Linked DNA regions of Homo sapiens. The protein of the gene in region 1 interacts with the protein of each later gene in a biochemical or structural test. Each region holds a gene or a part of one and is shown on either strand. Other genes may lie near its edges. The genes, in order: LANCL1 and ERG.

What was found.
Region 2: the proteins of LANCL1 (region 1) and ERG form a complex in vitro, tested with the Homo sapiens proteins (one large-scale study listed by BioGRID).

Annotation. Positions count from the first base shown.
Region 1 is NC_000002.12:210,473,810-210,478,214, reverse strand, and holds the start of LANCL1 (glutathione S-transferase LANCL1), read left to right. Parts: upstream 1-1,455; 5' UTR 1,456-1,595; intron 1,596-1,802; coding exon of another isoform or gene 1,803-1,818; coding exon 1,819-1,899; intron 1,900-4,405. UniProt on the Homo sapiens protein: Functions as a glutathione transferase. Catalyzes conjugation of the glutathione (GSH) to artificial substrates 1-chloro-2,4-dinitrobenzene (CDNB) and p-nitrophenyl acetate.
Region 2 is NC_000021.9:38,400,922-38,404,738, reverse strand, and holds part of ERG (transcriptional regulator ERG), read left to right. Parts: intron 1-1,029; coding exon 1,030-1,233; intron 1,234-2,101; coding exon 2,102-2,182; intron 2,183-3,817. UniProt on the Homo sapiens protein: Transcriptional regulator. May participate in transcriptional regulation through the recruitment of SETDB1 histone methyltransferase and subsequent modification of local chromatin structure.

The DNA.
Region 1 (4,405 bases):
TAGATACTGTTAGAGGGAATATAAACTAGTCCAGCAGTTTTGGAAAGCAATCTAACAACATTGGGGAAATTAAGTACAGAATCTCATATGATCCAGCAATTGACTGCTGGGTGTATGTCTCAGGGATACTCACACAGATTCATAAAAGCACATGTTCCAAGAATATTATTTGTAGTATGGAAGTTAGAAACAATGTCCATCATTAGGGGAAAGGATTAGTAAAATAAGATAGAGGCATACTATGAAAATATACAATTACCATCCTGCCTTGCTTAACAACAGTAATATTTAATTGCTTAAAGACTGTGAGTGGGATAAATGGATAGCCTTTAATCATTAAAGAAAAAATAATTGATAAAATGTCTCTCGTTTTCCTTTTCTCTCTTGTGAGTTGCTCCTTCAAACACCCATCTTTTAAAACATGAGAGATATCCAGCTTAAGACTCACCATGGGCCTCGGCTAAATCTTCATGAATTTGATGAGGTTAAGAAAGCAACTACATTTCCTAAGAAAGCAACTATTTTAAAAGAGCAAACCTGGGTGTGGGGAGGGATTAGGAGTAGAGTTTGGGATGGCAGCCTCAGAAGGACAAACTTAGGCCAAGGAGGGAGGGAGTTGGGGTGGAGACTGAGCTTCTCCAGTTGGAGGTCTGGAGCTAGGACTCTTCATTGAAACCGGAGAGAAGGAAAAGGAGAGAGTGAGGCTGACTTTTTAACTGAACTCCAAAATTCTCTGAGCAATAGAATGGGCCTAATATGTACCAGGTGGGATTTAATTTTAAATGAAAGAAAAATGTTTCAGATAGCAGGGACTGTTAAAACATTGAAATTGAATGTTGTGGATCTCCTGCTGTGTTGGTTTTCAGTATTTTTTAGAGCTTTGTTATCCAGTATTATAGTCCAATTTAGGCTAAGGAACAGAATAAATTTCCTAAGAGCTGTAATTTGTGTTTTCATGTGCTTTCCCCAAAGTATTATCAACTGCTATTTGATATCCTGTCCTTTGGGCATATTTTTGTTGTTGTTGTTGTTAATGATGGTGGTGCTTTTTTGTTTGTTTGTTTTAAGAAATGAAAAGAAAAGATTGGCAAGTCCCTGGAGAGACATTATCCCCCCACCCCCCGCCAAATTTTATCTATTGCGAACAGCAGAAATACCAGCATGTTCAGATCTAAAAGCAGTCTGTTTCTTCTCCAGGTTAAAAAAATATATACTTCTTATGACTCTGGACTTAAATTTGACTTTTTAAAAATAAGAAAAATTAAAGAAGGGTAGGAAATATTGGTCACATCTCCGCGTGATTCTAGGTCCTCACTTCTGCTACCCAGTAATTAAAATACCCTGCGTTATCCTTTAGAAATTACACGCCTGTGTCTTTAACAAACTGTAAGAGAGAAGGGGGCGGGTCTCGGGAACGGCGAAGGCTCTGATTGGCCCTCCTGGCAGGAACTGGGCGGTAAAATAGCCCTTCTGTTACTGTCCGGGGCTGCGGGGTGAGAGGCCAGGGCCGAGAAGGGCTTCAGGACGCGGGAGGCGCACTTGCTTCAAGTCGCGGGCGTGGGAACGGGGTTGCAAAACGGGGCCTCTTTGTCCGGGTGGGTTAAGGGCCCTGGCAGCTTTTTCGCGAAGGCGCCATGTCCTAGCAGTTGGGCCGCAGTGGGCCCGAGGTCCACTCGGACCGCCGAGACGGCTCGATGGCCCTGGAGCTGGAGGAAGGGGGATACCTGGGCGCCGCCGCCGCCCTCGCAACTCGGCCGAGGCCCCTATCTCAACCTAGTTTCTGTTTTTCCCCTGTTCTGCAGGCTTGCTTCCGGCGTCATGGCTCAAAGGGCCTTCCCGAATCCTTATGCTGATTATAACAAATCCCTGGCCGAAGGCTACTTTGATGCTGCCGGGAGGGTGAGTTTAGGATATGTCTGCCTGCATCCCTGCCTCTCCCCACGGTGTTCGGAAAGGTGCTCATTTTTGCCTGAGAGAGTTGAGCATCCCCCTTTAAAAAAATACATGATTCGACGATAAATACGTAAATTATTTAAAAATACATGTTAATATATACAAATTGAGCTCTAACATAATGTTAAATGTGTCATTGTTAACATTATTAATTGAAATAAACTCAATTATTGATAGTATAAATTTTAAAAATTGGCAAATATGTAGTTTACTATGTAATTGGCATTTTTTAATGTATTTTGGTTTGCTTCTTAAAAAGAGGTGAAGAATCCTAACGGTATTCACATGTGCCGTGTTACTCCTTTGTGATTATACACAAGTGCGTTCAGGGTAATGATGAGAGCAAACGGTGGTGTATGGTAAGGACGTCTTTAAACTGTTAGTGCTTAGAGAATTTGGGGACCTAGGAAACCTGAAGTTCTTTGTACCGGTGTCACTCCACAGGGCATATCCACAGCTGGAAAACAAAAAAAAAGAAACTTGTAAATTAAACTGGTTAGCATGTCACAAATCACTGTGCAAAAGAGAACCTGGATGTAAAATACTAGGGGCCTGTGTTTTCTCATGCCTCATTGGGTGAACATAATTGTTAAGAGGGAATACAGATATTTTTAAGAATACCTACTTTTGGCTGGGTGCAGTGGCTCACACCATTAATCCCGACACTTTGGGAAATCAAGGCAGGAGGATTGCTTAAGGCCACGAGTTTGAGACCAGCCTGTGCAACACAGCAGGACCTTATCTCTACTAAAATTTTTTTAAAAATTAGCCAGGTGTGGTGGAAAGCTTGTAGTCCCAGCTACTTGGGAGGCTGAGGCGGGAGAATTGCTGGAGCCTAGGAGATTCGAGGCTGTAGTGAGCTATGATTGCACCACTGCACTCTAGCCTGGGTGACAGAGACCCTGTCTCTAAAAAATAAAAAAATAAAATTTAGTTTTGAAAATGAGTTAAGTTGGAAACAAGGCACACGCTTTAAAAATTTTACCAGTTTATTTCTTTGAAACTTGTCAGCCATACAAAAGACATTTTATGTGATATAAAGGCCTTACAGATTTCATCCCTGTCAAATTAATCTGTGGGTCTGATGGTTGTTTTTTTCCTTAAAACACTTGTCACATTATAGATTAACTTGGGTCAGTAATGCAGGTAGGAGGAATCAAAGAGATGAAGAAGAGGTGTAGGGTAGAAGGCTACCAAAATGTATATGGAGTTTGAGTCAATCTGATTATTTTAAGACTAGTATTAAGCTGCCCAAACAAAGCTTTTTATAATTATCTTCAGGTCAGATGGATTCCCTTTGGCCATTTGGGCCTGCATTCTGCTTAGCTGTGCAGATTCTCAAGCTGAAGTATGTGTCTTGTCTTGCGGGAGGAGGACTTGCTGCTTCATACTGACTTGGCAAAGAGAACAGTTGAGGATTGTCCTAGTGACAGAAACCTTCAATAAAATGTACCTATTTAGACTGCCTATAAAGTAAATGCTTTTTATGAATTTAACCCTTTATTTATTTATTTATTTATTTTTATTTTTATTTTTTTAGACGGAGTCTCACCCTGAGCCCAGGCTGGAGTGCAGAGGCACAGTCTTGGCTCACTGCAACTTCTGCCTCCCAGGCCCAAGTGACTCTCATGCCCCAGCCTCCTGAGTAGCTGGGATTACAGGTGCACACCACCGCACCTGGCTAATTTTTTTTTTTTTTTGTATTTTTAGTAGAGGCAGGGTTTCACCATGTTGGCCAGGCTGGTGTCGAACTCCTGACCTCAAGTGATCCACCCATCTCAGCCTCCCAAAGTGCCGGGATTACAGGTGTGAGCCACCATGTCGGGCCAAATTTAACCCTTTGTTTCTAAGGGGAAAAATTCACAAATTTAAACCCTGACCCAAGAGTAATAATGTAGTTTATTGCCTAACGTAGTTTTTGGACAGGTCCTAGAAAGGAAGTAGCATACCAGTTCTAAAATTGTGTAATGTTGAACACGGAGGATCAAACCCTGGAGATCTGTCCTCCTTAATTTCTTAACACAAGATTTCAGTAAGGAACTGGTCTGTTTTCTGGCATCTGTCAGAAAAAAATAGAAAAGAAAAAAGGACTTTTAGAGACTTCAGATTATAGCTAGAGTTTGAATGATTTGGTGGTGTACCACAAGCAATCAATATTCTCACAGAGGTCACCTTTATTAAATGCAGAATGTGCCAAACAGAAAGTAACTTCCCTTCATAAGGCTGAGAGATTCTCATTATTCTTGATCTCTTGAAGGCCAGGCAAGATGATAAATTATATATGATCTATATACAGTAGATGACGTGTTCTCAATATAGATGCACTCTTCTATCTAGCTGAGATTTATAGGCCTTTTGTATTAACATTGAAGTATATTTTATCCTACTAAATGTATTTTCAAGTCTAGTTGAAATCTTAACCTCTTTGCAGAAATTGTTAAATAATGGGAGT
Region 2 (3,817 bases), on another chromosome or scaffold:
CCGGGAACTGAGATCAGTGCTCTTAGTTTACAGGTGGGACAGACACAGAAAGGAGAAATAGCTGCCCACAGCAAGGTCCAGAAAGTGGAGAAATGGTGAGATTAGAACTCAGGGCTCCAACTCCCTGCCCATGTGTCTCTCAGGGCTCGGGGCCCAAGGGAGCAGCCGCCCCATTTACCACACTCTGAAGACCCTACCACTGAGGGTGTTTACCACAGGACATCCCGGCTGGCGTTTCTGTTGGAGATCACCTGCTCCTTCTCCCCCGGGCCCTGCTCTCCCTGTCCCATAGGTAGCACTGGAGTGTGACGACGTGGCCTGCATCCTGTGGGGTGTTTGTGCTCGCCATGGCCAGCTGTGGAATGCAAAAACCACTCACCAACCCCACTCCTGCAGGTGCTGGTTAATTGCAAAACCAAACACCCTGCAGGAAAAGTCTGGAACTGACAGCTCTCTATGAGGAACGCTGGCTCATAGGAGGGGCTAGAGTCTTGGTGTATCTATATTTCATTTCCGATTCTGTGGTCAGTATTTTTCAGTATTTTGCATAAATACTGTTATTATTATTTTTGTTGTTGTTGTGATCTGTAATTAGCACCTTCCTGATATGTGTGGCTTACTCTTATTTCCATATAAATATATATAAATATACCAGTAGTTTTCTAAGGAAAAGAAGTTTCCTCTTATTCTTACTCATTTTAAAATAAATAAATAAAATTGAACATAAATGAGAAAAAAGAATTTTTAAAATCTTATGCCTACAGGAAACTTTAGATTGAGCAAAAACAAGGGCATGTGATGTGAATAATCCCAAGATTCCAGAACTATTCACTTTAAAGACAATGATCTATGGATGTGAGGCAGCTTTTGTCTTTCCCCCAAAATGTTCTCCTGGGTAGCCAGGGAGGCTGGCTGGAGGCTGTGCTTGTGGAAGGCAGCTGGTCAGAAATCCCACGTGGATGGGGATCTACCCCAAGATGAAGATCCCTGGCTTCAGGAATTGACTGAATGTGTTCCCACCCCTTTCAGATCCTACGCTATGGAGTACAGACCATGTGCGGCAGTGGCTGGAGTGGGCGGTGAAAGAATATGGCCTTCCAGACGTCAACATCTTGTTATTCCAGAACATCGATGGGAAGGAACTGTGCAAGATGACCAAGGACGACTTCCAGAGGCTCACCCCCAGCTACAACGCCGACATCCTTCTCTCACATCTCCACTACCTCAGAGAGAGTAAGCTCCCCCTTCCTCCAAGGATAGATGGCTGTGGCTATGGTTCTTATGACCTGAGCTTCAGAGGGTTCAACCAGGTGTGTCGACAGCATCCTCCTGCCCTCGCCCAGTTCCCACTGGGGATCCGAGGGAGCCACATGCTTGGTATGTGATGACTTAGGGGAGCAACACCCTGGCCACATCACCTGATGAGAAGTAGTCAGCGCTCTCAGGAGAAGCCAAAATTCACTTCAACACTCAGCTGCCTCCTCCAGGGTCCTGCGACCAAGAAGATGGAATGTCAAAGGGGAAAGGAAGCGTTAACTGGTCACACATTAGTTAAGTCTCCATGATACCCCGAATCGAAATAGAATCATTAAGGCTTCTCTTTCGTAGGAATTAGGGGGATTATTCTCCCTAAAGCTACATGAAGCCCCACTTTATATTCTAACCTGAGCACAGAACAAGGGAAGTTTTCACTTTGTATCATGTGATTCGGCTTAACCTGACAGAAAGGGATGGCATGTTGGCATGAATCCAGAATGTTTGCTGCATGCTTTAATTTCTACAACGTCCAGCATGGTGAGAAGGAAGTAGTGTGACAGACAGTGAGGTGGATAAATTCTCCTCCATTGCTTTGCCTGGCATCCCAACCACTTCTTCCCTGAATTAAAGACGGGCCCCCATGTAGGTTTTAACATGCTAACAAGTAGCAGGTTGCTGGAAATAGTTATAAGCTTCCCATGATGTTAGTGTGGGAGTGGGGGAACGGTTTTCTTTCTTTCTTTTTCTTTCTTTTTTTTTTTTTTTTTTTGTAAGAAAGGTAATTCTCTTTCTCTCTCTCTCTTTTTTTTTTCATTTTGATGTCGCTTTTTGTTTTGTTTTGTAGCTCCTCTTCCACATTTGACTTCAGATGATGTTGATAAAGCCTTACAAAACTCTCCACGGTTAATGCATGCTAGAAACACAGGTAATGCTGGCCCCGCCCCTGCCTCCCAGCAAGAGCGTAGGGTCTTACGTACAGGTTGCATGCTTTCATGGGAAACCAGTCAGCGCGTGCCAGGAAGACAGAACGCAGGTAGATGATTCAGAATACTTTCGGATACTTAGGAATGTACCACAGCCTAAAGGAAGGTGAAGCCCTTTGGTTTTCTGAGCGCTTCCCAAGCACCCCACTTTGATTATCAAAGGGTTCCTTTTTAACCAGGAGACGTGCAGAATTTGCCTTTAGCCATAACTTAGCTCACATTTGCCGGATTACAGTCTTCTTCTGTTGGTCCCAATATATTCGCTGTGCTGACTCTGTAGACACTAAAAGCATGTTCGATATAAAAGGGCCCTTAGCAACCTCCTTTAATTTTTTCCATTTTTATTCTTAAAGAAATATTTGCTAGGATAAGTTGGAATTTTCTTTTTCCTTTCCAATAAACTTTTAGGCTATTTGATTTGTTTTCCTACAGACTTTGTATGTTTGCAAAAGGCAGGAGGGAATTTCTGTAACATTTTGAGAGCTTTTGTTCAGAGGGAACCTCTGCTATAATTTTGGAGAATATGAAATTAGTCACTAACCAAATGCCTGTTTTCTATCTCTAACCGTTGCCTCTACATTTGACTTAGTTATGTATTTATTTTGCCTGAGCCTAAGTAGGGTTTAACACCGTGCCTCATCCTGGCTAACCTTCCTCCCTCGCCCCCCGCTCACAGCAGAGGCTGGGTTTTCTGTGGATGAATGTGTTCCTGGTTCACATCCATCTGCTCCTTCCTGATGGAGAGAGTTCCGGAAGCATGGCCACCGGCTGCTCACCCCACTCTGTTAGCTGCAGGGACCCTCCACAATCACTCGGGCTAGGGAGGGAGACGGGAAGTGCCAGAAAGCCTTGCAAGTCAGCCAGTTAACTCACGATCAGCCCTCACATAGAAATACGCAATTTTCCCAATATTTACCATTTTATTTTAAAATATAAAATGTGAGTGAGTCCCGGTTTGAGTATTACAATGAAATTGCTCATTTATCATGGTCTTCTATATTCAACACATTGTCTTTTTAATCTGAAGTTTTAAAAAACCTGCTTCGAGTTGGTAGTACACTTTTTCAATAATTTTGGTTGCACACATCAGCCTATTAGTGACCTTGTGGCCAGAAATAACAGATAACTTAGAGGAAGTTACTTCCCCTTCTTAGGAAACACCTTTGAGCTATGCACATTTTCTGATAATTTCACATTTATTTATGAGTTCTTTAACCATTGAGTGAAAGTTTCAAAAAAGCTCCAAATATATTAAATTTTGCTATTGTTAAACACGGAAGAAACCAATGAACAAGACAACAAATTCCAAATGGACTGAACTATGAAAAGGGAATTTTCTCAGCTAACAGCATGAGTTTTGGTCAAAAGAGAGAGAGGGAAAATGCATTTGAATAGAGATGTGGATTAATTATTAATAAAATCCATATACTCTTAGGCTAAATACTTATAATTGCTTGATACTACTTTCCAAAAGCTCTGTAAAATATATTATGGGTTTTTATACAAGTTGAAAAATAAAACATGTACCATATAATTTTTTAATAAAACGAGATTGCCCAGTGGGAAGTGGGATTGAG